Linked DNA regions of Homo sapiens: region 2 is linked to region 1. The links come from fine-mapping of genetic effects on gene expression. A gene starts in region 1. The other region holds a variant in brackets. All regions are shown on one strand. Distances are from middle to middle.

The links. PIP is the estimated chance that this variant, and not a neighbour inherited with it, causes the effect.
Region 2: its variant is fine-mapped to the expression of CRACR2A in whole blood (INTERVAL, PIP above 0.99).

Annotation. Positions count from the first base shown.
Region 1 is chr12:3,746,466-3,761,938 of GRCh38, reverse strand. It overlaps CRACR2A (calcium release activated channel regulator 2A), which reads left to right and starts at 8,830. Exons shown (of 20, transcript NM_001144958.2): 1 at 8,830-8,924. LOC107984495 (a long non-coding RNA gene) reads right to left here and starts at 5,376. Exons shown (of 2, transcript XR_001748964.2): 1 at 5,231-5,376; 2 at 3,774-4,243. RefSeq lists a silencer at 8,596-9,095.
Region 2 is chr12:3,720,205-3,735,677 of GRCh38, reverse strand. CRACR2A (calcium release activated channel regulator 2A) reads left to right here. Exons shown (of 20, transcript NM_001144958.2): 2 at 2,468-2,736. It also overlaps the pseudogene RNU6-174P. Among named protein-coding and RNA genes, the nearest start is that of CRACR2A, 25 kb to the left of the region's middle. RefSeq lists an enhancer at 1,814-2,442 and a silencer at 6,742-6,841. The variant C/T (reference allele first, on the strand shown) is at 6,435.

The DNA.
Region 1 (15,473 bases):
CTCAACCTCCTGAGTAACTGGGATTACAAGTGCGCGCCACCACGCCTGGTTAATTTTTGTATTTTTAGTAGAGACGGGGTTTCACCATGTTGGTCAGGCTGGTCTCGAACTCCTGACCTCGTGATCCGCTCACCTCGGCCTCCCAAAGTGCTGGGATTACAGGCATGAGCCACCGTGCCCGGCCAGCTGGCCTTGTTTCTTATTCTTAAGCCTGGCTTCCTAGAGTTGCCCATGTGTCTGCCTAGATTAGCGTTCAGCCAAAGATTGGTCAGAGGTTATGCTCAAATATCTCGAGCCAGTGAGATTTCTACTTTCTGCTGGCAGATTTGTGAGTCAGCTGGAGAGTGCATCAAAATTTCAGGCATTTTCCCCCCAAGTCTGCCGAGGCTTCTCTTTTCCCCTGAGCCCTTGCATCTCCACTGTACATGGGGAAGACTCCACTGGCCAGGAATGTGTGGGTGGCTTAGGATGTTCCCGTTTCTGCAGCATATGCATACGACCTCTGTTTAACTCATAATATGGGGAGAGTTTACTAATCCCCTCATATCTGCTTCACCTCCTGGAACTCCCTGTTAAGTACCCAGCTAGTCACTAGCCCATTGCTTGCTCTGCAGTTTCAGGCCAGAAGAGCTTCTGGTCCTTTCTGATTACTTGCCTCTGAGATCATCGCTTAAATAATACTGCTTCAAGTCAAGGGAACCCCCTCTGGCAGTGACAAAAAAATGCTAGTTTGTAAGATCTGGCTTGCCCTCATTGAACTATCAAACAACAGCACTCTGGTGGCGGGGCAGGGGTGCAGGACTCATACAAATCACCACAGATTCACGCTGATGTTGCTGTAAGTTTAGTAGTTTTCACGAATATAAGCACTTCTCAGTTTGTTGCACGCCTCCAGTCATTTTTGGGAAATGAAATGGTTGTTTTTGACAGTTTTGAGTGGGGACTATAGTTGCTTTTTGAGGAAATAGATTATCGACCTCTTCACACTCTTATGCCAGAAGTTCTTCTCTGGACATCAGGTTTTTATGGTGTCTCTCCCCAGCTGGGAGAGGGGATGTGCAGGAGGGGAGGAGGTCTGGGCTGGAAGCTTTCCAATCTGGACTCAGCTGCAGCCAGTGGGCTCTTACCCTTTGCAGATCTCAGTTCCCTTAGCTGAAAATCAATGGGCGTTGGACAGGGTGACTTGCTGCATTTCCTTCCATCCTGAAAATATTCAGTTTCTAATGGAATTCAGAATTCAGCCAATGTCTTTACATAGGAGATCTAAAAAATTAATTGATCTCACCCTTTCCATGATCTTTGGTGTCATTGTTACATAAAATTGTGCCTCCAAGGAGGTCATATATGTATTTCATCTAAGAAGAGGCAATGGTGCTTTTGACTTCAGTAGAGAGAGGAGGATATTTTTTCCCTCCTTCCTTCCTTCTTCCTTCTCTTCTTGCTTGCTTCTTTTCTTTTCTTTTCCCTCCCCTCCCCTCCCCCTCCCTCCCTCCCTCCTTTCTATCTCTCTCTCTCTCTTTCTTTCTTTCTTTCTCTCTCTCTCTTTTTCTTTTCTTTCTTTCTTTTCAGAGACAGGGTCTTGCTCTGTTGCCTAGGTTGGAGTGCAGTGGCGTTATCATAGCTCACTACAGGTGTGTGCCACTGTATTAGTCCATTCTCACATGGTTATAAAGAACTACCTGAGACTGGGTAATTTATAAAGAAAAGAGATTTAGTTGGCTCATGGTTCCAGGAAGCATGTCTGGGGAGACCTCAGGAAATTTACAATCATGGCAGAAGGTGAAGGTGGAACAGGCACATCCTACATGGCTGGAGCTTGAGGAAGAGAGCAAAAAGGGAAGTGCTATACACGTTTCATTAGTCCCTTTTCATGCTGCTGATAAGACATACCCGAGACTGGGGAAAGAAAGAGGTTTAATTGGACTTACAGTTCCACATGGCTAGGGAGGCCTCAGAATCATGGTGGGGGGGGAAAGGCACTTCTTACATAGTGTGGCAGGAGAGAATGAGAGAGAAGCAAAAGCAGAAACTCCTGATAAACCCATCAGATCTTGTGAGACTTACTATCATGATAATAGCACAAGAAACACTGGCCCCCATGATTCAACTACCTCCCCCTGGGTCCCTCCCATAACACGTGGGAATTCTGGGAGATACAGTTCAAGTTGAGATTTGAGTGGGCACACAGCCAAACCATATCAACTTTTAAACAACCAGATCTTGTGAGAACTCACTCACTATCATGAGAATAGCAAGGGGGAAAATCCTTCCCCATGATCCAGTCACCTCCCACCAGGCTCCTCCTCCAACATTAGGGATTACAATTCGACATGAGATTTGGGTGGGGACACAAATCCAAACCATATCAGCCACCATGCCTGGCTAATTTTTTTTTAATTTATAATTTTTTGTAGAGATGGGGTGTCACTGTGTTGCCTAGGCTGGTGTCATTCTCTTTGCTTTGCTTTTCCCTCTTCCTCTCCTTCCTCCCTCCCTCCCTCCCTTCCTTTTTCCTTTCCTGACACTGTAAGCCTTGACTATGTACCAGGCACTGTACTAGTTGCTTTTTATGTGAATTATTTCATTTACGTCTCACAACAACCTCATCAGGTAGATCCTGTCCCTAACTACATTTTACAGATTAGGAAGCCGAAGAACAGATAAACTTCCTGACATGTTCAAAGCTGAGTAGTTATTTAGTCTCAACCTCTCAATCCCCTTCTACTCTGCAACACCAACTCTACACATAAATTAGACTTTTGGCATCATTGGTCATGTTTTTAAGAGAAGTGGTCCGGAATTGAGAGGTGGGGAGGCTCCTCTGGTTGAGAAACACCAGAGGTGTCTTTCTGCAGTAGGCAGCATGAAAGCTGGATCTGGCTTTAGACTTTAAACAGAGATGCATGGAGGGCCCTGCAGGCAGGGAAAGCAAAGCTGGTATGACACCATTGCTAGAAAGCAAATGCTGGGCTCTTTACAGCCTATTTGTGGGTGAATAGTGAGACATAAGCTTAGAAGGTGATATAGTTTGGCTGTGTCCCCACTCAAATCTCCTCTTGAATTGTAGCTCCCACAATTCCCATTTGTCATGGGAGGGACCTGGTGGGAGGTAATTGAATCATAGGGGTGGGTCTTTCCTGTGCTGTTCTTGTGATAGTGAATAAGTCTCACGAGATTTGATGGTTTGATAAAGGGGAGTTTCCCTGCCCAAGCTCTCTCTTGTCTGCCACCATATAAGACGTGCCTTTTGCCCTCCACCATGATTGTGAGGCCTCCCCAGCCACATGGAACTGTGAGTCCACTAAACCTCTTTTCGTTTATAAATTACCCAGTCTCAGGTAAGTCTTGATCAGCAGCATGAGAAGAGACTAATACAGAAGGGTTGTTTTATCAAAACAAAGCATCTCTCTAAAAATGGTGATGTTCCCTGACCAAATTTTGATGGTGGAGGAATTAGATTATTGGGAAGCACTCTGTAATGAAATGGCCAGGCACTTTTCTTTGTTTTCGCTGGCTTGTAGGAGCTGGTTGGCTCCACCAAACACTAGGCCTAGAACATTCTTGGGCTGACAGAACCCCCTCCTTCACCTTACTACATTTGTTATTTCCTTATTTATTATATTCACGGTCAAGATACTGTGGTTGGGTCTTGTGTGTATGCATGTGCACTCATGGGAAAGCAGAATTATGAGGGAAAAATATCTATACTTTCTAAGCAATTTATAACTGTAAAATAGTAGATACGAAACATTAATTTCATCATTCCCAGATGATTAGATAAATGATAATTCATTGTTAGGTCTTTAATTTATTTTTAGCTGAAGTAACCATGTGGCTTCTTTAGTGGATACCCTTGAACGTATGGTGGCTTTGATTTCTCTATTCCACAAAGAGGGGATTCAGAAATTCGTGACAGCAAAAACAATATCCCACATAAGGTGGCATCAGGTACTCTGTCTCTCAGAGGCCACTTGTGGGGCAGGGGGATGGAGTGAAATCCTCCATTCAGGGCCTGGAGTGGTCACCCACAAGCTTGTGGCTTACAGGTCAAGTCACCCTGAGCCATAGTTACCTCGTCAGTAATACATGGGATTGGCTCTATGACTTCCAGCTCTCTCAGGTCTGTACCTCTGCAGCTCCATCTGAATGACGAAGTCTATTGTTGGCTGCTGGATGGAGAGTAGAAAGTCACTGCTCATGTCTTACTTGTCCTGTTTTGGAAGGACTCCAGATTTGTAAATCCCTTAAAGGAAGTACATGATTTTCAGAAATATCTTCAGGGAGGCCCTGCATTCTAGCCTAATTTTTCAATTGCAGCTATAAGCATGTAGCCTGAATTGGCTCCTGCAATCTCATAGATGTCTCCTTCCCAAACATGCTCACAGAGGCAAAGGTTAGAAGATATGGATCCAGGGTGATTTCCCTCTGGTGTTTGCTGGCTCTGTAGAGCTGGCCAGCCCTCTGCTCTGGGCCGCTGTTTGATTTGGCCTTTGCTGGCGAAGCTCTGGGAGGTGGGGCAGATGCTGCCCTTCTGTATGCAGCCTGAGAAAGTCAACATTGAAAAATCTGTTTGGTTTTTGGCCTCCACCTGTTGGAAACTCTGTAATTGTTGCCATTCACAATAAGGAAGAAGGAACAATAGAGGGATTCCTGTATTAGAACAGTGAATGTTTTCATTGTTCCTCTAAGGGGACCAATAATAGGAACTGGGCTTAAGTTAGAGTTGAAAGCAGCAAGTGAACAAGAAAAAACAAAGAAGTTACAGATGACAGGAGGAAGGATGCCATAGAGCATCAAGGTGACTCTGGAAGAGGGTAGCACGCCTCATTGGAAGTGTCCCTGTGCCCTTCAAGCCAATTTTCTACTCCCCCGACCCCTGACACTGGCTCTTCCCTGCCCCACCCCAGAGGAGGCAGCAACTCACAGCACAAGCATCTAAATGTTACTTACCCCACCAATCAGCCCAGACCCTCCAGCCATTACCTATTTTCTTGGTTCATAGATGAAACAGGGACTATGATCTGGGAGCTCTGCATCCACTTTCCTCCCACCACCTTGCTCCCATCCTCACTCATCTTTACCTCCTCCCCCTGCTTCTGAGACTTCTGGGCTCCTCCTAAGCCCTTGTCCTCGCCAGTCCTTCCTGCCTCTTCTTATACCAGGGCCATTGACCCCTCCTCACTCTTCATCCTTTCTCTCTTCATCAGATTCTTAACCTCAGTCTACAAACCTCTTCCAGTCTCCTGCTTGGTTCTTCTGTTCCTCTCTCACACTCTTTGTCCCCTCTACTGACAGCCTCCTTGAGAGTGGTACCTCCTTACTTCTCCATTCCTCACTTCCATTTATTCCCAAACAATTGTGTTGGGGCTTCCAGCACTCATCCAAAAAAAAGAAAGAAAAGAGAACACAACCGAAAATACCCTGTTCTTGGGCCAATGGCCTTCAAACTGCCAATTCCAATTCTAGGCTTTGCCATATGTATTTACCTTTTGTATGTTCACTCAATTGTCATGACTTAGATGCTTATTATATGTCAGAATGCAGGCCAGGAGGACACCAGATACCCCTAATAAAACCCAAGTTTCCTTTGGATGAATAGCCCATTAGGTTTTGTCTGCCAATTGCTTTTCAGTGTGGATCACTTTATGTGCCCTTTTCTGGAAGTTGACTGGGTCTGGGCAGGCAGCAGAAAGTAGAGTCCACTGGCAGTCTGGTGATCGGGGACATGAGATCAGGGACATGAGTCCTGGGTTGGAGGACATGAGAACAGCTTAGGGCTCCAATGACACACATTTCCTGGTGTTGACATGACCTAGCAGTGGCCTCTTAGGGTGGCAGGGTTTGCAGCTGCTGTCTGGGGCTACAGGCCCTGGTGCTAAACCAAGGCCATCCTCCCACCAAGGAGCACAGTGGTAAGTCATTGGCAGCTGGGCAGGTTGCACAGCTGGGGAGGATGACCCAAGTGAGCTGAATACTGGCCAAGGTCCTGTTCTTCTTTCACGGCTACCCTGCTTCTGTCACAACCCCCATCGTACTGAACTGCAGTTGTCAACTCCCTGGCTGATTCCCTGTGAAACAGAGCTCCTAGGGAAGAGCCTAGGTCCAGACCAGCTGTACAACTTGAATGGTCCAGTGTAAAATACAACTTATATGGCCCCTTGTTCAAAAATTGTTAAGATTTCAAGAAGGTGGCAGGACAGCATTAAACTCTGTATGAAGCCCTTCTAAGTGAGTGGCCTATGTCAGGGGTCCCCAACCCCAGGCCACAAACCGGTAATGGGGTACTGGTCCGTGAACCCTATTGAGAACTGTGCATGTGAGGGATCTAGTTTGCACACTCCTTATGAGAATCTAACTAATGCCTGATGATCTGAGGTGGAACAGTTTTATCCTGAAACCATTCCCACCCCCCACTCCCACCCCTGGTCCATGGAAAAATTGTCTTCCACGAAACAGGTTCCTGGTTCCAAAAAGGTTGGGGACCTCTGGCCTATGTGACTTCATAGGTCATATGCCCAGGAAGCCAGCCTTGCCTCGGTCTTATTCGTCACCTAGAGAGAGCTCAATAAATCCTCATTGAATAAACGAGTTTGGGTTTCTCCTGCAACACTGAATCATGTAATCATGGGGAAAGAGGAGGTGGAGATCCTCATCCTTCCCATGGTCCAGGCTAGCTCCATAGCCTGGGGCCAATCAGTGAGTATCAACTGTGCCTCAGTTTCCTACATCCATACATTGGAAGAACCATCTTTTCCCTGTCGCTTTTCTGCCACGGGCCAAGAGTAAAAGAGGCACGAATGTACAAGCTGAACTTGCAGCAGTTAATGTGATGGCTCTGTGATTCTGAAGGGCACCATGAGGCGTGGTGTTCTGTTAAAGAAAACGCCAGCAAATTAGAGACATCCCCATAGAAGCCAGAAGATGTGGTTAATGTTTGCAACATGAAATGTCTAGGTGTTCTGAGGTGGGCTAAAGGACAGTTGCTTTTCTTCCCTATTAAATAGGTGGTTAGACTCAGACACAAGGGAACAGGAAGCAGAATGGCATCAGAGACAAAGATGACTGCATGGAGTTTGGTGAGAAACCATCCTCAAAGCAGCAATTTTTTGGATGAGTCTCAGCCTTTCTGAGCCTCTGTTATTCCAACTGTGAAGTGATACAATTAACAATAACAAAAATTTGATAAGAGCAAATACATTTGGCATTTTTAATGAACCTACTACTATTCTAAGCCCTTTAAAGATACACATTTATTTCGATTCATAGAACACCCCATGATGCAGGAGCTGTTACTATCCACATTGTACTGATGGAGAAAGTTCCAGTAACTTGCCAAGGACGTAGCTGGCAAGTTGGAGCACTGAGATTCAAACCCAGGGCTTTGGCCTCCAGAGTCTGTGCACTAACCACTGTAATACCTCTGAGACTGTAAGGGGCAAATGAATGACAACGCATTGATTTAGAAGTGAAAGGCGATCTAAACGTGCAAGTATTAACACTATTAAAAACAACAATAACAATGGTAGGTACCTCCGATGCCTCTGACCTTATCTCTCTGGTCACAGTTTTCTGCTCTGTAAAATGGGTGGGCAGGCTTTACACTGGATAATCTCTGAGGCCCCTTCCACTTCTCAGATTCTGATAATGAAATGTCCTTCTTTCCTCACATAAGGCTGAGAGAAGGTCAAGCCACCAGCTTGCAGACCTTGGGAGTTGACACAGGGAAGCATACCCAGGACAGAGCCAGAAAAGCCAAGGCACGCAGTAGGGACACACCAGAGGGCAGGCCTCAGAGCCCCTGACAGCCTTCTGAAACTCTGGCAGGGTGGAGGGAGGTTGTGGGCTAGTGGCTGGCTGGGCTGCAAGGAGAAGAAAGGACTCCACAGAGTAATTTATAACAGCTGCTCAGTAAGTGCTAATTTGTTTCTCTCCACCTTGGAATAGGACTTAGCGCGTGTGAGAGGGGGATGCTACTACATAAACCAGTACCAGAAAGATGGGCTTGCCAGGAAAGAACTGGGGCACTCTGCAGGGGCAGTGTCTGGGGAAGGGTTCTCCAAAAAGGTGACATTTCAGAGGGGCCTGGATGGATGAGTAGGATTTCAACAGGCAGAGATGAAAGGGGAGGGTGTTCCAGGCAAAAAGAAGAACTCCCAGCAGCCATGAAGAACAGCTGGTGTTTGGCAACAGCTAGTGTGTCCAGAGCGAAAGTGTTGTGTGTGTGTGAGGGAGAGAGGGTGAGGCTGGAAAATTAGGTTGTGGCCGGAGAGGGCAGGGTGGGCCTTGCCTTGTGCGCTAAGCTGAGGGGTTATCCTGCAGCCGGAGCACCTCGGGAGGCCTTTGAAGATTTACTCAGTGCTTTATTAACAAATACGTATTGGGTTTTTGGTGTTTTGTTTTGTTTTTAACGATTCATGCCCACAGTAGAATATATAGAAGAGTCAGAAAAGTATAAAGAATAAGGATCCCCTTTAGTTTCTGCTCCCAGAGGTAACAGCCGGAGTGACGCCGGGCTGCTGCCGGGTTTTCGGGGGTGCACTCCCAGACACCACCTCTCCAGTGAGCCAGCGAGGGCCGGACTGATGCCCCACCTTGGGAGCCTGAATCGGGGCAAGGGGCCTAGGGAGCAGCGGGACCCCGGAAGCCCGACCAGTCAGGCCGGCTAAGTCGGCAGCCGCCCCGCCCTCGCCACCCAGCCTCCCTGGCGGCCTCAGGTCGCGCCTGCAGGCCCGGACCCCACCGCTTGGCGCGCGCACGTCCCGGAGGGCGTCCAGGGGGCGCCGCTTCCCGTTCAGCTCCGCTGAGGGGCTGGTCCAGCCCGCGCGGCTCGGAGCGGAAAGAGTCGGGCGGAGCAGGCGGCTGCTTGACAGCTGAGAGCCGAGCGGGCGGCGCGGGCAGGTCCACGGGAAGCCTACACGCCCAAGGTAACGTGGAGGAAGGTTGAGGGTGGGCGGCCGGGGCGGCCGGGGGGCGGCGCTTCCTGCCTGCTCCTCCGGCTGCGAAGTGTGAGCGCGTGTCTGCCGCACATGGAACTCGCAGAGGGCCTGGATGGAGGCTGTGTGCCCTTGGGGGGGAACAGCTGGCTCCCCTGCCACCCCCAGGCCTGGCCTGGCCCTTGCTCCCCTCCCTGTCACTCGGTAACGGGACTGGAGGAGAGCCGAGAAGCACTAGGGTTTTGGTCAGGAAAGGACCTTAGGAACCCTCCAGCCTCATCCAGCCTCTTCATTTCACAGATGAGGAAACTGAGGCTCAGAATGGTAAAGTGACTTGCCCAAGGTCTCAAGTCTAAGAACCAAAACTCCTACCTTGCAGGTCAGTGCTACTAGGAGCCCTGGCCACGCAGGCAGCATCCACAACTGTTGCCATGCCGAGAAACAAAGAACCGAGACAGACAGTCAGAAAGACACAGAGAGAGAACCTCCCAGAGCAAAGGAAGGAGGTCAGGAAGTGGGCGGCTGCTGGGGCTTGGCTTCCGCCCTGGCCCCCGCGTGTGCTGGCCTGGCTGTGTGGCTCAGAGGCGTTGTGCTGACTCTGTCCGTGTGTGTGTGTGTCCGTGTGTGTGTGTGTCTGTGTGTGTGTGTCCGTGTGTGTGTGTGTGTGTCCGTGTGTGTGCGAGTGTGTGTCTGTGCACCCATGCATGCACGGGATGCAGCGAATGTACCCTGCCACGTGGGAAAGCCCTCTGAGTTCATTTATCTGTTTACACAGTGTGCTTAGGAACCTGCCCTGTTTGGCTCTGTGGAGGACACCAGGAGTCTCAAAGGAATTCGTTCTGTGTGACTCAAGAGGACAGAAAGAGCCAATCCGTGGGAGTCCCCAGGGTGGTCAGAGGGTCAGGAGGAAGAACCTAACTCATGAGGTGATGGGTTCCTTGTCTCTGGAAGAAAGCAGCATGTACCGAAGAGTCTTTTTATCAAGGATGTGGGCATAGGGATATGAAATCAGAGCAGTTTGCTCCACGTGGAATCAGCATTTTTGTTGAAGGGTCCAGAGTTCATGCCCCTTTTCAGGTGAAATGAATATGTACAACCTCATGGTTTAGTATTTGCCCATAAGAGCTACTTCATGCGCAGTTTTTAAGTGATAAGTGAGAGGCTTCAGGTATGGCTTCCGAGGTCCTGTCACCTCTCGGTTCTATAAGTGAGAGGCTTCAGGTACGGCTTCCGAGGTCCTGTCACCTCTCGGTTCTATACTATAAAGTGTGTAGAGGGAGTTTGGAGGAGGGAGGTTACTTCTGGAAGGAGTGACTCGCAGAGGGCGTCCTGGATGTGGCACTGAGGCCGGGCCTTGAATAGGAGGCTGGGTCTGGGCATCTTGGGGAAGGACGGCTGAGCAAAGCCGTGAAGGTGGGTTGTACCTGAGGAGCAAGGAGTAATGTAGTGGACAATCCGGTGAGGAGTGCTGCCTGGGAGAGATGGCAGAGGCTTGGAGTGTTACGAGTCTAGAAACTTCATTATTAAGCCTAGGGATATTTTGATGGTTTCTAAGAAGGGAAGTGTTGTTCCTGGAGCTGGGTTCAGAAGAACATGTCATCTGCACCTGGGTATGGGATGTACTGCAGTGGAGGAAGCTGTGGGAAGAGAACCTGGGAAGAAGCCCATTGCAGTCACCATGAGGGGTTGAACAGGGCTGGTGGGAATGGACAGGAAGGGGCTAAAAGGCTTGGGGGTAGGGGAAAAGTCATCTGCCATGTGCCAGGGCCTGTGGTAGGAGATTTTCATGTTTAATCTCATTTAATCCTCCTGACAACCTCATGAGGAGATTGCTATGATTGTTCCATATTGTAGAGGAGGAAACTGAGAGAGAGGTTAGGTGGTTTATCCAAGGTCATACAGAAAATAAGTGGTGGGATGGGGATTTTAACCCAGAGAACAATGGAGTAGATGCAATCTGGTAACTGAATAAATGTCAGGGACCAGAGCAGAAGAGACCAAGATGATGGCGATTTGGATTCCAGAGTTAGAGTGGCTGGTGATGCCACTGACAGAGATGGAACCCCAGGTGTGGGGGGTGATTGGAGATGCGTCACGCTGTGGTGAGCCTGCAGAAGGCAGGCCCCAGCACTGGGGCAGTGGCCGCAGTAGCCATCCATTCTGCCTTGGGGCTCCTTGTTGCAATGGTTTGCTGAACCTGTTGTGGGGAGGGAGGGTTGAATCTGCAGGCTGCCTGGGTACTGGCAATGCAGCTGAGAGAAGCTAGGGGAGAGCTAGTGAGGGATTCCTCAGGGACAGGCTAATCACCCACTGAGTTCACATCTCTCTCTTGCTTTTCTTCCACACAAAATAGTGTCTATTTTGTTGCAATGCACAGAGGACTCAGGCACTTGCCATGATACCTTAGGTGAGAATTAGTTCAGATTTTATATTTTCCAAGGCCCTGTTTCCCTCGTATGTTTCCCCTAGAGAAGAGCTAAAAGATGTAATTGCCAAATATTGCAGAATATTGCAGAATTCAGGATCTTAAGAGCAGGTCCACGGCCTCTTACAATGTCATAGAATCACGGTGTTCTAGAGACAAGTCTGCCCTATTTTACGGATGGAGAAACTGAGTCTTTGCGAAATCATGGTCCTTTGTCAGCTGTTAGTGAGTGGCAGAAATGGGTCCAGGCCCTTGGGCTCCAGAGGTTTTGCTTTCTGCACTGACACACATGGAGGCCGCTGTCTTGCAGAGGAGCCTCCAGGGTTTCCTGTAAAATAGCCCTGGGGGCCAGGCTTGGTGGCTCACACCTGTAATCCCAGCACTTTGGAAGCTGAGGCGGGTGGATCACCTGAGGTCAGAAGTTCGAGACCAGCCTGGCCAACGTGGCAAAACCTCATTTCTACTAAAAATACAGAAATTAGCTGGGCTTGGTGGCAGGCACCTGTAATCCCAGCTATTCAGGAGGCCAAGCAGGAGAATTGGTTGAACCCGGGAGGCGGTGTTTGCAGTGAGCTGAGATTGCGCCATTGCACTCCAGCCTGAGTGACAAGAGCGATACTCCGTCTCAAAAAATAAAAATAAAAAATAAAAAAAATAGCCCTGGGGACAGTTCTATAGACAGGTCTAGCATTCAATGGACCATTTCAAACTGGTACACTTTTTGTTCCTACCAACACAACACACACACACACACACACACACACACACACACACACACACACACAAAGAAACAGCAACAACAACAACAACAAAAACCAGCACATTGTTCCACTCATCCATCTATTGGTCATTTCTTTGCCTTTTCAAATCGCTTCCTTTCCTCTGAGAGAAATTTGATAAGGCACAGTTTAGTTAGAGCCATAAAGGGTTCCGTCCAAGTACAGGGTCAGGGGGAAGTCCCAATAAAGCCAGACGGTACCTGTGTGCACCAGCAGAATCCTAAGGCACGGACAGGGAAGCAGGAAAGGAGAGGATGGCTGTAAGGATCAAGGAAGGAGAAGAGACAAAGTGCAGAGAAGAAGGAAAAGAGGAAGAGCTGAGTTTGTGGAGCAGACAGCTCAGTGGCATGGGCAGAACCTACTTTGGGGACCTATATTTTGGGAACCTGGCTCCCCAGTACTCAGAGGCAGCATGAAGCAGGGAGATAACCAGGTGGACATGAAGAAGCCAAAGGGAGTCACTCTTATAATACATCATCCAACCTCGGGCACTGCCGGGAGTGAAAGGGGGAATATTCATAGCAATGCTGGGACCACAAGCATAGCCAGGATGTTCCAGGCAAACTGGTCACCTTCACAAGAGCAATGCAAAGAAAGTGCCAGGCATGGCCCAAGGGCTGTCCATGTATTCCCTTATGGAAGCCTCACTACAACCCAATTGGCTAGGCACTGCCATCATGCCCATTTTATAGAAAAGTTAACTGAGGAAGAGAGAGGCACAGTATCATGTCTATGGTCACACAGCCGATACACGGTAGAGGCAGGATTTGAACTCAGGCAGCTTGGCTATTTCAGAGCCTGCACTGTAAGCGTTATGCTCCATTGGCTCTCTACTCACCAACAGCATCCACACAAAGACACCCCCTTCCCCTCACAGGACTCAGGAGAGGGACCTTTGGGGTCTGTTTTCCCTCACAGCTGCTCCAACTGGTCAAGTTAGCATGACGTCATCCGGATGACATAAACAAATTTGCAGTCAGGCTGAGGTGAGGGGGAGGACAACCCTCAGTCAGGTTTGTCCTCTACAGGCTCCACACCTTGTACACAGTGCTGAGTCTTGGCCTCAGGTGTTGGAGTTCTCAGTCATCCTTGCCTTGTAACTGCTCTGCCCTTTCTCTGAAGGCTGAGTTAGATACAGGAAGGACCTCTTGAAGTTCAATATTAGGGACGGGTTCCTCTAGGACCTCATCTGCCTGGGGCAACTAGAGGGTGCCACCCTGTGATGACAAAGTTATCTCCAGGGCCTCTTCCAGCTTGAGGGCTATAGAATTTTCTTTTGTGACAGATTCTTCAGGAGACAGAGCATCCCCCTTGTCGGTGTGTTTTGGCTCCCAGCCCTGGCTTTCTCGGAATGCCAGCGGGACACTTTCTTCCCTTGTCTGTTTGTTGACACATCCTGGATGGGGCTGGCCAAGGGAGGCATTTATGGGGCAGCAGGCTCTATGGTGGGTGGAGTCTGACTCTGGGTGATGCTCCAGGTGTTTCTAGAAGATGCATGGAGGTAGGAGCAGGCAAGCTTCCCCTGTGGTTCAGATTCCAAGGGCCTCTGTCCCCACCCCATCTGTGCTGAAGATCCCTTATTCACACAATAGAGCTGCCCTGCCTGGGGGTGGAAAAATGTGAGGCTGGGCCTGAGAACTTGTGGGAAAGTGGAAACCGTGTTTTACCCAAGCAAGTCCCAGCAGTGAGGTTGGATAGGCTTAACACCCAGTCCTGTGCTCGTAGTGTACCCCTGAGCCTGTGGAACTCTGTGCCCTTCTGGGTGCACCCCTGAGCCTGTGGAACTCTGTGCCCTTCTGGGTGTACCCCTGAGCCTGTGGAACTCTGTGCCCTTCTGGGTGCACCCCTGAGCCTGTGGAGCTCTGTGCCCTTCTGGGTGTACCCCTGAGCCTGTGGAACTCTGTGCCCTTCTGGGTGCACCCCTGAGCCTGTGGAGCTCTGTGCCCTTCTGGGCTTAGTTAGAGGAAAGGTGAGAAGGGTGAGACGTAGCACACGTGCTACAGGTGCACCAGGACAAGCTGGAACCAGCGGGTGTGGCTGCCCTCCTCCCGGAACCTGCACTCGTGTTTCTGGCCAGACAGCTTCCTTTACTCTCTTTTAAACTCACAGCAGCACCAGGGGACGTGGGAGGTTGGCTACCATGACCCAATTACCAGTGCAGACAAGAGGAAAATCTTCTATTACCTGGGTGATTGGTTTATTTTCACTTTGTTTACTTTAGAGATTGCTCAGCATTGAGGTCCAGGATTTGTAGTCCATCAGAGTTCTCTTGGTAAATGGATGCAGCTTTGCCACATTGTCCGCTGCACATAACCACATACCTTCACCCACTGGGATAGAGGGTTGGATTGGTGCTGATGCGGGAGGGAGGCCAGCTTCCTGCAGCCCCACCTTGACCAAAGACGGAACTCCAGGGACTCTCTTTCCACTGCACCTCAAGGTTGATGCACAGAAACACACTGGGCATGGCTGAGAGTTTGGCATAAATGAACTCATCTTTGTAACCGTTTTATGAAATAGGCACTGTTATGATCATCCTCCCCATTTTACAGATGAGGAAGCCATCTTCCTCATCTGTTTCAAGAGGCTGAGTAACTTTTCCAGGGTCACACAGCTGATAAGAGGCCGAGCTGGGATTTGAACCCAGGCAGTCTGGCTCTAGGGCCAAGTCCTCAAGCGTTCCACAGCCTGCCGCCTCTGAATGCTTAGTGCAGAGTCTGGGTTCTACTCTAACCAGTCATATGTCTTTGGGATTAGCCTCTAAACCTGAGTTTCTCTTCTCTTCATTCAAGTGAGAATACAGGAGTTACCTGTTGATCCATGTCAGGTGAGTTAAGGGATGTGAGGAAGCACGTGGTCCACGCACATGTGATCCCATGGGTCATGGTGACATTACCTGTTTTGAGAGCTTGTGGTTGAGTTCCATGCTAAGGGTGTACTCCTCCCCTTGTTGGTCCTTCTCAACCAACTTGTTGAGATGTACTCCTCCCCTTGTTGGTCCTTCACAACTTGTTGTGCTTGTCTTGGATTGAAATTCTCCAGGAGGCAGAAGCAGAGTCTCTCACCTAATTAGCTTCCATGCATGCTAAGTCCCTGCTGTGCCAGCAAAGGGTCCTGCAGGGGGTCTGGTCTAAGAAGAGAGGGGTGGTCCCTGTAGTAGGCATGCATACTCCCTTTGAGGGGATGTCTTTGTTCTGGCAGACAGAACAAAATATCACAGACAACCGAAATTTATTTTCTCACAGTTCTGGAGGCTGGAAGTCTAACATCATGGTGCCAGTTTGGTGGGTGAAGGTTCTCTCCTTGGCTTGCAGAAAGCCACTTTCTTTTTGTGTC
Region 2 (15,473 bases), 26 kb after region 1:
CAAGTCCTGCCTCTGCTACCCACTTCCTGTATCACTTAACCTCTCCATGCCTCAGTTTACTGATCCATAAAATGGGGCTAATCCTTGAACTACCTTACAGGCTTTGGAGGAGGATTAAATGGGTTAGTACCCAGAAAACTTTCAAACACTGCCTGGGTCATTGTGTCAGGAACTGTTAGTTGCCACCATTGTTGGTTGTTATTTTATTACTATTTACTTACTCAGTTGTGAATGTCTGCCTGCCTCTATTGCTTGCAGTTTTCTTGTCTCCCTTCAAGAATTCATTTCTTTTCTGAGGAGCATTTTGCTAACACTCTCCCAGCGCCAGGTCTCCCCGCACCCTTCTTTGTGCCCACACAGGCTTGCGTGCACCCTGTCCTAGGATTTGCCTCCCTGCACTCACCTCTTTTCCAGGAGTTGGGCTCACTTGCTCTATCTCCGCAGGGCTTCATTTTCTTCCAGCTTTATTGAGGTGTAACTGAAAGATAAAATTCTATAAATTTAAGGTGTACAACCTGATGATTTGATATATATGTGTATATTATGAAATGATAGCCCAATCAAGTTGGTTAACATAGAATTCAAAGAGAAAATTTTTTTTATAAAGTTAGTTAATACATTCATCACCCCACCTAGTTACCATTTTTGTGTATGTGGTAGGAGCATTTAAAATCTACCCTCTTAGCAAATTTCAAGTATACAATACAGTATTAAGTCATCATGCTGTACATTAGATCTCTAGAACTTACCCGCTTATCCACATTGTAACTGCAATTTTGTACCCTTGGACCAACATTTCCCCTCTCTCGCCACCTACAGCCCCTTGCAACCACCGTTCTGCCCTCTGTTTCTCTGAGTTCAATTGTTTTGGATTCCTCATATAAGTGACATCATAAATTTGCCTTTCTCTGTCTGGCTTACCTCACTTAGCATAATGCCCTCAAGGTTCGAGGTTCACCCCTGCTGTCGCAAATGGTAGGGTTTTCTTCTTTTTATGGATAAATTATATTCTATTATGTATATGCACACACACACACACACACACACATACACACACCTCACAGTTTCTTTATCCATTCGTCTGTTGATGGACACTTAGGTTGTTTCCATGTCTTGGTGATTGTGAATACTGCTGCTGTGAACACGGGAGTGCGGAGATGACTTTGAGCTACTGATCGTGTTTCCTTCGGACATATACCTAGAAGTGGGATTGTTGGATCATATGCTAGTTCTATTTTTAGTTTTTTGAGGAACTTCCATGCCATTTTCAGGGTTTAGTCCCTGACTTCAGTTTTGAGTCCCGGGAGCCCAGCAAAGTGTCTGGTACATCAGTGGGGGTAAAAAATGTTTCTTAATTAAATGATGGAATTGGCATATGTTGCAGAATTTATTGAAAATACAGGCCGGGTGGGGTGGCTCATACCTGTAATCCCAGCACTTTGGGAGGCTGAGGCGGGCAGATCACGAGGTCAGGAGATAGAGACCATCCTGGCTAACATGGTGAAACCCCGTCTCTACTAAAAATATTTTTTAAAAAAAATTAGCCGGGTGTGGTGGCGGGCGCCTGTAGTCCCAGCTACTCAGGAGGCTGAGGCAGGAGAATGGCGTGAACCCGAGAGGCAGAGCTTGCAGTGAGCCAAGATCATGCCACTGCACTCCAGCCTGGGCGACAGAGCGAGACTCCATCTCAAAAAAAAAAAAAAATAAGGCAAAATGTGTCCAGTCTAGGAAAAGGACTGAATACCAAGAAAAGGTGGAGAGAAAAGTGTGTGTGTGTGTGTGTGTGTGTGTGTGTGTGTGTGTGTCCTGAAAATTTGGGAATGTTGTGGTTAGGATAGTGGGATTGGATTCTAGAATGTGGTCTTGTGGTCTCAGGAACATCTCAGTGCACATCACCTCAGATAATCTTAGCTATGAGTAGCAAAAACCCACAACTCGATGGATTTAAACAAGGATATTTATCGCATGTGTAATAAGAAGTCTGGAGGAAGGGTGACATTGGTGTTGTCTGATCCAGTGGTCAACGATGTCATCAAGGGCCCGGATTCAGTCCTTCTGTTCTGCCTCAGGCTTCCTCCTCATGGTCACAAAGTGGCTGCAGAAGTTGCAGTCAACACATCAGATGGCACAGCATCCAGCAGAGGAAAAGAGCCAGGAAAACACTTCTCCGAGCACCCCTAGCAGGGCTCCTCTCACGTCTTAACAACCAGAGACGGAGTAGAGTCCACCCCAACCTACCCATTGGCAAGAAGCTTGCATTGTTTTGGCTGGATGAGGCCTCTGAGCTGGGGAGGAGGTCACTGTCCTGAGTGAACAGAAATGGAGTTCTGCTAGAAAGGAGGAAAGGATAAATGGATGCTGCTTCAGCAAGCCACAGTGTCTGCCTCAAAGCCCAACCCAGATAATCTAAAATGAATTGCTTGAAGTCAAAGTGAGGAACCCTTTCCTCTCTCTGTTCTACCCACAGGTCATGCCCTGACCACAGCTGCCCTTCAGGAGGCTGGCACGGAGCCACCTGGGGCCATTGGGCTGTTTGTCAAGGGTGGGGCAGCAGCAACTTGCCACTCTTCCTCCATGAGCCCAGCCAGAGCCTCCACTGGGCACTTAGCACAAGAAAAACCCTGCAGGAGCCGGATCCAGAGCGCTGGGATTCAGCAGGAGTGCCAGGAGAATTCAACACAGGTGTGCTGCCTCCTCTCCTGCCAGGTGTGTGGCTGCACAGGAGTCTTGCTGATGGTAAGAATCGGAGTTCCTGGATTCAGGGGGTACTGGGAGCAGCCGCCTGTGAGAAGGCTGGGCCAAACAAACAAATGTTCTGAATGAGGATAAGAAAACAGCATTTCTCCTGAGGGTCTCTGATTTTCTGTAGCCTGCCCCTGGCTTGAAAACTGTCAGCTTAGCAAAGTGGACTCTCAAACCACCTGGATCTCATGTTTTTTGCTTGTCAGATTCATTGATTGCTGCAGAATAGGCTCAACATCCCACAGGGTCTGCTTCTCTGACTGGGACAAAAGCGCTCATAAGAAACTGATGGGAGCGGCTTCACCAGGGGTGGCAGACAATTCTGGCCAGGAGTGGGTGTCCGCAGTGGGCAAGAAGTGTGGGCTCCATGCCAGGAGCAGTGGCGACAGCTTCTAGAAATTGTCTAGTAGCCTGACATCCTAAAGAATGTCCTGGAGAGCTGGAAAAGCGGTTCTTCCAGACACATGCAGGGAGCAGCGAAATGAGATGCAGTAGAAGGTTGAATCCAGCTGGGAGCACAGTGCAATTTAGTTAAGAGTGACTTCTGTGGCATCTGCTGGTCGTGGGTGAGGGCTGGGGGAAGATAATACTAATTTGGCCATTATTACACATGTCTTTCTTGAATCTTCAATCAGATTGTCAACTCCTTGAGGGTAGTAATGGAATATTTTATGTCTTTTGCATTCTTCACAAGGTCGGGTACTCAGCCATTGTTTATTGGTTGACTATTTGATGCATTCCGACACAATACACTTGACCGGGCCAGGTCCTGGGATCTTCATTCATAGGAGCAGTGTTGTCACCAGTATCTGTTGGGCACCTGCTGAGAAGGAGCAATGGCGGGTACTTTTGCCACCCGAGTTGGCCTGAGGTTGCTGAGTGTATGAGTTTCCTAGGGCTGCCTTAACAAAGTGCCACCAACTGGGTGATTAACAGAAATGTCAGGTCTCCCAGTTCTAGAGGCGAGAGGTCTGCAACCAAGGTATCAGCAGGGCCTGACCCCTCTGTGGTGTATAGGAGGCCCCTCCTTGCCTCGCCCTGGCTTCTGACGATTTGCCGGCCGACTGTGGTCTTCCTTGGCTTGCAGCTGCGTCACTCCAATCCCTGCCTTTATCATCACATGGCATTCTCCCTGTGTGTGTGTGTTTCCAAATTTTCCCATTTTTATAAGGACACCAGCCATATTAGGAACCGCCCTACTCCAGTATGACCTCATCTTAACTCATTACATCTTCAGCAACCCCGTTTCCAAAGAAGGTCACATTCTGAGGTACTAGGGGTTAGGACTTCAATGTGGAGATCACAGTTCAAGCTGCCACACTAAGTGAGCTCATTCACAGTGACAAGACTAGGGACATACAAAGGGCCGGGGTGAATATGAATGGTGTTCCATGGTGCTGCCTGAAAGTGACTGGCAGCAGTGTCAGCAGGGGAGCATGTCCTCTGTTCTCAGCATTCACTAGAGAGGTGTGCTGAGCTGGGGCCCAGCTGGACACATTGGATGCTGTGCTCCAGAGGAGGAACTGCACTCACCTATCGCTCTCCTTTGTATGGGACAAGTGGGACAGAGCCTTGATGGGGGGAACACACCACTGGGGTTCCAGGCAGCCTTAACTATCGAGGAATGGCAGGAAATTCTGTCTGCCCAGCACCTGGTGACCCTGGAGCTCCTCAGTTTCCCGGGAAGTTGAGTTTTGGAGCAGTCTCTTCCAGAGAGGCTGGGAGTGCATCACTTTCCCCCTGGAGGTGGCGGAGGCTGCTGGGCCCAACTAGCTCATTGCCAGGCAATCCAGAGAGAGTTCCAGACACCAGATACTGAACAACCTACTTGTCTCCACACCTAGTAAAGCTTGGATCCAATGCTGCCAACTTTTCTGCCTCTCCAGTTTTGGAGCCCTTAATGTGAAGGTGCAACCCAGAAGCCTGCAGGCTGTTCGTAGCCTGTAGATGTGTTTTCTTCCCAGTAGCTGGTGTATACAGTGTTTTTGTATTATTTTTCAAATAAGCAATACATTTGTGTGGTTCAAAAATTAAAGCGCTATAGAAAGGTATTCGGCGAAATCTTATCCCTGCCTCCATTGGCCAGTCCTGCCCTGCCCCTCCCTTGTAACCACTTTTATTAGTTTCCTATACAACCTTCCAGGATTTCTTTTTGCAGATAAAAGTCAGTACAAATATATATCTGCCTCATCCCTCTACTTCTTACATAATTATAACAGACTCTACACACTATTTTTAACCTTGCCTTTTTCACTCGATTTATCTTGGTGATCTTTCCCTCTCAGTATGTGGAGAGCTTCCTCATTCTTTTTTTACAGGGGCATAGTATCCCATTGTATGGATTTACCATAATTTAGCAATCCCCTACTGATGAACACAGGTTGTTTTTAGTCATTTGCTGTTAATATTACAAGAAACACTGCACGGAATAAACCTGCCATTTCATGTTGACCCTGAACGTGTGTAACATTTAAAAATTCTGAAAAATCTTTGAATAATCAACAGAACTGGAAACACTCAGTTCTAGTATGTGGACAACTGGTTGGGTTGGGTAGCAGCTGTCCTTTTAAAGAGACCTCCCTGCCCCGCTCTGGCATCTTCCCCACCACCTCTTGCTGACCCTCTTGCGTTCAGCCTGAGCGTTGACTGCCATCTAGCAACATTGTGCTGTTTCTCTCATAGAGTATTAAGGAGGAAGGGAAATCACTCATGTACTCATGTCTCTTCAAGGGGGAAACTGAAAACCAAGGAGGCTGTCTTTTTCCAGCAGAGGGAGGAGGGCAGACTTAATATGAAAGCGATTCTTCTTCATCGGCCCCTGCCCACTCGGCCCATTTCTGTTAATCTTCTGTATGCTTGAGATTGCAGCCCCTGCCTTGCCATGTCCAGGCTTTCATCTCGGGAGCTGAAAAGTGGAAGGGAAAGAACTCTGCTCTCTTCTTGCTTTTGTGCACTATCTGAGTAATTGCATGGAGACCAGCAATAAAAATGAAATACAAGACAGTCAGAAGTGTTGCTCCATTACATGGATTCTCTCAGCAGACCCCCCAAGGCAGTGGTAGCACTAGCTCACTTTTCCAGACAAGGAAACAGTAGCAGAGTGAAGTGGCTTCACCAAGACTCATAACTCGCACACAGAAGAACTAGGATCAGAACCCAGGTTTTTCTGTCACTAGAACCTGACATTTTAGCCAATCTATCATGCTGCTCCCAAAGTCTTTTTGTTTTTTCTTGAGACAGAGTCTCGCTCTGTCACCCAGGCTGGAATGCAGTGATGCAATCTTGGCTCACTGCAACCTCTGCCTCCCGGGTTCAGGTGATTCTTCTGCCTCAGCCTCCCAAGTAGCTGCGACTACAGGTGCACACCACCACATCCAGCTAACTTTTGTATTTTTAGTACAGATGGGGTTTCACTATATTGGCCAGGATGGTCTTGATCTCTTGACCTCATGACCTGCCTGCCTCGTCCTCCCAAAGTGCTGGAATTACATGCATGAGCCAGCTTACCCGGCCCCAAAGTCTTTTTAAATAAGGAGTGGTTTACAGTTAAGCCTCTCACCTTCTAAGTCTGTCATTACTGATGCTGTGGAGATGATAGTCGTGACAAAGATAAGAGCAGCTCTGAAAATGGGCCAGATGGCTACATACTGCAAAAAAGGTGGGTGACAATGCGTCTGTGGTCTCATAACTAA[C/T]GTGACGGCTGTTCCTTGACAGCTTTTCCCATTTCATAGAGTGGAATTGGCTCCCCTGCCCTTTTGCTCTTTCAATCCAAGAACATGTATTGAGCACCTTCTGAATGCCAGGCACTGCGCTCGGTGTGAGTGACAAGCCTGGTGCCTGGAGGCTAGTTCAGGCAGGTCAACAGAAAGCTGCAGTGCCACCAGCTACATGTGGTATTGGTGACATGGATGCGTTGGGTTGTGTCCAGAATGTGACAAAAGAGACAAATACGCCATGGAGCAACCATGGACAACAAGGCGAGTGGCTTCCAGCTGTCTTGGGTCCTCGTCATTTTACACTACTTGATGAAGGAAGGAAGTGGGACCCAGAAGTGGTGGCTATGAGCTAAGGTATTGAGCCATCCTTCTGCCCGCAGCCCAGGATGAACATGACCACAACTGGCAGCTCTCTGGAGGCCACTCGGGGTTGAAAGGTGGGCCAAAGGAACCCTCCCTCCCTTTGCTGCTCCACCTCAGCTTTTCTCATTCCTGGCCATTTGTTTATCCTGTAAGCTGGGGGCTGGGGGTCTCCCAAAGTATCACTCATCCTGAGAGTTAGCATTCTTCCAGCGGGGCAAAATCCTCTTCCCTACTGAAGAAATTCTAAACCCAGCCAGCTGAAAGAGGAAGAGTGCAGGGGTGAGGGGAGGATGGGACCAAGAGGGCACATTCCACTTGATCTCTGAAGTCACACCTCAGCAACGGGACTTGCCCGCCAAGGCTTCTCGTCACCATGCTTTGTTGGATTTGTAATGTGCTGTTTATCTCTCTTCTCCCGCAAGTTTGCATGCAACAGCATCTGTCATCTCTGTGGTTATCTTAGAACAACTGGGGCTTTTGCTTTTTATTTATTCTTTCTCTGAGTGCAGTGCTAACCACAGCAGCCTACGGGCAGAGGGGTTGGGGAGGGAGTCAGTTGCTTTTCATTGAAGTGCTATGGTCTTCAGCTGCAGCTGGTGTGAGTGCTGAAACTGTGTGAAACAAAAGTGTTGAAACTCAGTCCCAAGTGACTTCTGGGGATCCGTTGCCTGTGTTTCCTATGGATGAGTAATTAGAAACGAGTGGTTTTCAGGTTGAAAAGGAGACTCCAGAGTCCTGATGGAATACAGACAGCAGGCACGTCTAGGGCCACAGACAGGTATGTGTGCTGCTCTGTGCTGGCAGCTGTGTGCAGATACAAAAGAAGTATCCCATACCCTCCTTGCCCTCAAGGAACTTAGTGACAGGAAGGAGAGCAAAATTTACAGTTGGCCTACCCTCTTGGGCCTGTTTCCTCATTACAGAAATGAATGAGGTTACACTTGATCAGTATTCCTTATTTTATTTTATTTTTTTTTTAGATTCAGGAGGTACACCTGCAAGTCTGTTACATGGAGATATTGCATAATGCCGAGGTTTGGGGTTCTAATTAACCCATCACCCAAATAACGAACATAGTATGCAATAGGTAGTTTTTCAGCCCTTGTTTGGCGAGTGTTTCTAATGGGGTCAGGCTGTCCCCTAGAGTAATGCCTCTCACACTTTCAAAGAAGTTAAGCCAAAAGCCCGGTATTTAGGAAATGGTTGTTTTAGGAAGAGAAGCCTAAATGGAATAAAGACAAAACCTCGAAATGACGAGATGATCTCCCTGCTTCATGCATTCTGTCTAGATCAGAGCATTTCCAAATATACACTGAACTGAAAAGGGCACAGTACAATATGCAGTGACCGCAAAGCAAGGAACCCATGCGCAGGTCTGTAACAGGAAATCTGAGACTTCATCCAGCCGATGTAGAATTAGATACTAGTTTAAATTAGCAGAGGCGCCTCAAACTTGTTTATAAAAGCTGTTTTAAAAATAATATTCTTATCACATATATTTATATTTGTAGTACAATGATAAGAAATCTCTTGCAAAAATTAGCTATCATGGTTACTTCTTTGGGGTTGCCTTTTGTTCTTCCTTCTTACTCTGATATTCTCCTTCAAGATTTACCCAACAACTTTTCCCAATCCATCCTCTTCTTCTCACCGCCCATACTATAAGGATGTCATTTTAAAAGCTTTTTTTTTTTTTTTTTTTTGAGACAGAGTCTCACTCTGTTGCCAGGCTGGAGTGCAGTGGTGCGATCTCAGGTCACTGCAACCTCTGCCTCCCGGGTTCAAGGAATTCTCCCACCTTAGCCTCCCGAGTAGCTGGGACTACAGGGTGTGCCACCACGCCCGGCTAATTTTTGTATTTTTAGTAGAGACGGGGTTTCACCATGTTGGCCAGGATGGTCTCAATCTCTTGACCTTGTGATCCACCCGCATTGGCCTCCCAAAGTGCTGGGATTGCAAGTGTGAGCCACCACGCCCAGCCACTTTTTTTTTTCTTTCTTTCTTTTCTTTCTTTTTTTTTTCTTTACTGCTAAAGACCGAATATATGCCTCAACACAGTGGGTGGGATTTCCAGACTGGAAACATGTTTTCTGTGACACTTTGTCACTATCCTGCCCCATATCACAGCGTAATAAATTATCATGACGCTACACTTATACGTAAGACTGAGCTCACGAGACAGGATCCTGTGCTTCCTTGTTTCCTCTGCTTGCACATTTGTAATTTGATTTGGCTTGTTATCTGTACCTCAGTGAAGGTTATTTCCTTCTTCCTGTTATCATATACGGCCAGGAAAGGGGGGTAACTCATTGTAACACTTCTTTATTCTATTGTCCTCCTATATCCCTCTGATCTTTTATTTCCTTGTACTTCTTATATGAAGTGGCTTCTATTTGTCTTCTGTTAAATCTAAACTTAACCATTATAGGTAGGTGGAAGTGTTGACTACTTCATTATGTGTTCCAGTGCAGGCATGCATGAGCACGTACATATTGACAGACATATTATTTTATTAAGAATCACATTTCTGTGCTCACTTTGGCAGCACGTATACTAAAATTGGAATGATACAAAGAAGATTAGCATGGCTCCTGCACAAGATGACATGCCAAGTGTGTGCTCGCTCTCTCTCTCTCTGTGTATATACGTATATATATAAAATATACATATAGTATGTATTTATATATATTAATCACATTTCCTTTTTATCCTTTTATTAAAATTAGGGCTACTTTATGCGTTTGGGTCGACCGACTTTTCTAGGAATTGTATTTCAGGTGGTAAAGATGGTGTTTCTAAATATTTGTTACAAAAATAGGGCATTGATTGGATAGGGTGGAGCACCACTGGGTTAAATGATCTCCAAGGTCTCTGACATTCTTTGTGCAACATTTACAAAACAATGGATGACAGCCTGATTCATGACTCAGTCAGAAAAAAAAAAATCCTGGAGGAGAAAGTGATCAGTGAAAGCTGGGATTCTTTACAATGTCTTCTTCAATGAAGTACTGTCCGGGAGATGTGGTGCTCCTTGCCCCTGCCCCACCATCCTGGCTGCGCTTGAGAAACTGGGGAATTGAAGAAAAGAAAATACTTATTTAATTTCCCATCCAGGATCATGTGAAAACAAATTTCTGGAGTGAGGCCCACGCATCTGGAGTGTTTAAAAATCTCCCCAGAGGATCTGATGTACTCTGAGGGTTGAGAATCAGTGCCTGCAGAGGGGCGAATGGTAAAAAGATAGGCCCATGTCCTAACTGCCAGAACTGGTGAATATGACCTTATTTGGAAAAAAGAGTCTTTGCAGATGTAATGAAGTGAGGGATCTTTAGATGAGATCATCCTGGGTTATCTGGGTGGGCCCTGAATTCAGTGGCAAGTGTCTTCATAAAGAGACACACAGAGGAGGGACATAGAGAGAAGAAGGCCAAATGAGGACAGAGGCAGAGCTGGAGTGATATAGCCTCAAGCCAAGGAACACCTGGAGGTACCAGAGCCGGAAGAAGCAAGGAGCAGATTCTCTGCAGGAGCCTTTAGAGGGGACACAGCGCCGCAGTCACCTTGATTTAGGACTTCTGGCCTCCAGAACTGTGAGAGAAGAAATCTGTTGTTTTAAGACACCTGGTTTTTGATAATTCATTGGCAACCCTTATAGATTAAAACCCTGCCTAACGGGTGGAGGAGATTTGGTGAGATGGAAGAGATGTGGGAGAGCCTTTCTCATATGGAAGCAAAGTGAGTGAAAGCAGGGAGGCCTGGCTGGAGGGAAAATGGGAGGCAGGACCACTATTATAGGACAGCGACTGTCCAGGGGGAGCGGGCACTGATTCTGTGGAGAACCAACCAGAGAATATTTCCTTTTTCTAGGAAAGATGAATTCCTCTCCATTCTTCTTCTCCATTCTCTCCTGTCCTATTTTGGAAAATAGTGCTTGCTGCGCCTCCTTAGACCAAAAGAGCCCAAGCAGCCCAGGAAGCGAGTTCACACTCCATTCCATAGCAGTGGGAACCAGTGAAGGGTGAGGTCGGATGTCTGAACACTTAGTGTTCTGTTGTCCATCAATGTAAGGGTCACTCCCTCCAGGGTGCACTCCACCCCTCCCCAACACCAGCAGTTCCACTTTACGATGGTGGCTTTATGAATCCCAGCAAAGCTATTTGTTTTGCAGCCCCAGACGGTCTGGGTGATATTGCTGACATCATTGGATGGCCCTGCCAATGTCTTAGAAGTCAGTCCTACCTGCAGATATCTAAACTAAGTCACATCACTTCTGACAAGCTTCTCCTAAGGGACCATTTTCTCCTATGCTTAGACCACCAAGCTGGAATGAGAGCAGCCAGCCTCAGAGCACACACAATGCCAGCTGTGCTTAGTTAATAACCAGCCAGCTATCTTGGGGAGGCGTCTCGCGGGGCACTGCATGATGAAGCGCAGATCCATGCCCTACTTTCTGCAAACTTAAGCAAGTGAAACTTTCATTAACAATGCCCATGAAAGCAGAGTCCTCGCTGACTTCTCTGGCTGGCTCAGCAGGAGCCTAGAGGGTGTGAGAGGGCTTGTGCAAGAACACACCAATCTCATTTCTGGATCTTGTGCGTGCATTTCCCAGGTGTTGTTTTGAACAGTGAACTCAGAAAGGGCCAATACTCTGGGAGCAGAGAGCTCACCCTGAGTATAATACGGCCTTAAGGGTAGAGAAAAGCAATTAAACGCCGCCTGACAAGAAGAATCTAGGGACTGTGATGCACTGAGCACTAGGGCCGGGTGCTGGGGGCCTGGATTGGAAGGAGACAGGAGGAAACAGATGGGAACAACTGATGCATGATTATTCTTAGTCTTTGATTGCCAGCTCTATTGGGGATTTGACGTTACCCATTGTCCTAGAAACGAAGGAAGGGCATAGGAGTGCCTTCATTTCATTTTCTGGAAATAAACATCTTTAAAGGAAGGAGATCTCTTCCTTCTATGGACACCGTCATATGACTGACACTGTAATGTCAGTGGCTACTGATTTAATGTTGAGAGAGAGACTGCAGAATGGTAAGCACAGGCCAAAATGCAGCTGTTGGCTCCAAGGAGCAGCTTTGGGATCCCCTGGATAAGAGGCCCTGGTGGAGGTCATTCCAGGCATCCTCCTGCCTACAAGAACCCCAGCATCCTTGCCTACTATGGGCTTGAGAGAGAAAGGCCTGGCCTCTTAACGTGAGATGTGGGGCTGAGGTTAGGGAGCAGGATGGAGGACCATGGCTGGAGTTGCTAAGTCTCACTGGGGCACTGAGCTGCCCCTAGGGACACCTAGGGGCATCCCTAGGCATCTCTCTGTGCCACTGAGTCAGAGACGTGTGAAAACGTTTCCAGTTGAGCAGTAGGGTATTTTGAATGCAAACACACACAGTTTCCAAACCCCCCACCACTGACCTCCTCTTATTTATTAGAAAATCCAAAAGAGTTTTCCAGGGTTGGCTGGAAGGGTGGATAAATCTGACACTAACTGGCCACCTGAACCATGGAGAGAAACAGTGTCCTCCAGAGAGCAAGCACCATTAGAGAAGCCCTATCATGGTGAGAAGGCCTAAGGCTGGTTGCGGTCCACACATAGCTCCAACCCAGAGAAAGGGAGCAGCCATGTGTCTGTGCTGCAGACATGGCATGCTACTCCATGCTCAGCACTCTAGTCAAGGCTGCAAGTATTACTGGGAACAAGACAGATAGTCCCCGGGCTCAAGGAGCTCGCAGTCCAGCAGGAGTAATAGATGTTCACTAGTTACACCAGGAATTGTTTAGTTACAATGGTCATAAATGCTAAGGAGGAGTACAAAGTTCCTGAGAACATACAGTTTTGGATGTAGTCTGAAGGATCTTAAAGATCATCTTGTCCAGCCCAATCAATCCACAGATAAGGAAACTGAGGCTCAGAGAGGGTAAGGAAATAGATGAAGAGTACCTATTTAGTCAGTGACTGAGATGGGATGAGAAAGCATTTCTGATTCCCAATTCTGTTTTTGTTTAGGCTAGGGAAATTGATTTACATTTGTAGTCAGAGCCAGTTGTATCAACATTTTCATGAAAGTGTCTGGGTCTAGGAATTTCATGAAAAAGCCAGTGGATGAGAGAGTGGAGGGGGACTATTCACAGCATGGTTAGGGGCTGTTTGCACAAATCCTACTTCTGGTAGCTATTCTAATAAGGCAAGGATGAGTCCCTGTTGGTACTGTGTGTCCTGTGCTGACATCAGAAATGATAAATGTGCCTGATGCAGGAGCCACGGAGTTCATCACCCCTCAGCTGTAAGTGCTACCTCCATACGGCCTCCCAGATGCCAGCCTCGCTCCACACTTCGTTCTCGAGTGGCTGTGCCATTCCAGGTCCCCACGGCCTCTCATGGGTCTAGTCTCCTTACTTCTTTCTGTTTGACTTTAGCACCCACACTGTCTTCAGACTGTATGACCTTAGGTGGGTTACCTAAACTTTCTGAACCTCATGTGTAAATGAATGTGGACAATGAGGGTTATAGGTAGGGTCAATTAAGACAATTAAGGCTCCCAGCATAGTGCCTGGTATATATTCCATATGAACTCCCTAAAATATGTCAGGTCCTGGAACCCTTGATGACTCCTTATAACCTGCAAAATAAGGAATAACCCTGTTAGAATCCAACACATCCAAGAAGATTTTGTTGACTCCTGTTATGTGCTAGTCATTGTGCTGGGTAGTATGGTTACAGAATGAATAAGCCATGATCCCTGACTTCAGGGAGCTAAAAATGTATGGGGGTAGACATGTACACAAGTCTAATCCAGTGTGATGGGTGATGCATCAGCAACAATCACAAAAGGCCATTGAAACACTGACAGTGAGCAACTGAGTCAATTTGGCATGACATTCAAGGCTTTCTAGCCCTCCTGTCCTATCTCTTACTCTGTCCTTGTGCCAGTGCACCCTGTTCCCTACTCACATTTTTCCAAACACGTGCTGGACGTCTTCCATCTCCCTTCCCCTCCCCACAGCCCTGGGGGTTAACATAAACACAGAGAATATAGGAAATACTAAAGAACATCATAAAAATCACCCATAAACCCAATAAACAAGATAACCACCATTGATATTGTGGTACATTTCCTTCTAGTCTTTTTTCAGTGTACATGTCTTTTCTTATTGCCCTTTTCTCATTCTGCCTTACATTTTAGTTTTTCACATGCATTTATCTCCACTAGACTATAAGCTATTTGAGGAGAAGAATAACGTTTCACTCACTTTTTTTTTTTTTTTTTGAGACATGATTGAGACTCTGTTGCCCAGACTGGAGTACAGTGGTGTGATCATGGCTCACTTACTGCAACCTCAAACTCCTAGGTTCAAGAGAGCCTCCCAAGTAGCTAGGACTACAGGCATGTACCACTGCACTTGGCTAGTTTTTTCTTTTGCTCTCTCTCTCTTTTTCTTTCTTTCCTTCTTTCTTTCTTTTCTTTCTTTCTTTTTTTTTTTTGTAGAGACGGGGTCTTGCTATGTTGCCCAGGCTGGTCTCAAATTCCTGGGCTCAAGCGACCCTCTTGCCTCAGCCTCCCAAAGTGCTGGGATTACAGGTGTGAGTCATCATGGCTGGCCTCACTTGCTTTTTACCCCGTTCCTAACACAGCATCTTTTACTAGGAGTCACTCTGTAAATGTTAGCTGAATAGAGCCGCTAGGTGAATTTGTTTGGCTTTGGAATTCTGCATGTAATCATTGTTGAGAAAGCAGCTTTGCTGTGCTGGTGCGTGCTGCTTATTTAAAACTCAGGCATTCTCATGAGCACTAGAAAGTGCTGGCCAGTCAACCACTCTGCTGAGTGGGTGAGGGAAGAGACTAAAAATCCATAATAATTCAACAAGTGGCTGAGCCACAGGCGGGTAATAAAGTGAGTTCTGCATCCTGCATGGGGTTGTGTTGGAAAGCAGCTCTGCCCACCATGATTCGACTTTGTCTTGCTTTAGAATGACACAGTTGATACTGGCAAATCTTTCTTTATCCCTTCTGATCAAAAATAATGTTGGCGTTTCACCTGGGTGGGAGTGGGTGAGATTTTCTTCTCTAAGAAGTCAGTTTTGGCTCTAAAATACTCTGGTTAGATTAAAATGTAAGAGGCTCTTGAGCGAGGATTGGAAGTGGGAATAACACAGGCTCTCTTCCAAAAAGCTCGGGGTAGGGAGGCTGGGACCAGGTCAGGAGGAGAATTCACTCAGCACGCCACAGGTCAATGCAAAGCAGAGCACACGAGAGAGAATGTTGTGAGGGATTAACACAGTAGAAAACGTTAGAGCATCAGGATCCCGTCGAGACCTGTGGCAGGCACAAGAGCCTGGCGGTGTATTAAGTACCCTCCATTTTTATTTGTTTCTTTTTTTCTTTTGCTTTCTTTCTTTCTTTCTTTCTTTCTTTCTTTCTTTCTTTCTTTCTTTCTTCCTCTCTCTCACTCCGTCCCTCCCCCCCTCCCCCTTCCTTCGTTTCTCTCTCTCTTTCTTTCCTTTTTCTTTCTTTCTTTCTTTTCTTTCTGTCTCTCTTTCTTTCCTTCTTTCTTTCTTTTTCTTTCTTTCTTTCTCTCTCTCTTTCTTTCTTTCCTTCCCTCTTTCTTTCTTTCTTTCTTTCTTTCTTTTTCTTTCTTCTTCTCTCTCCC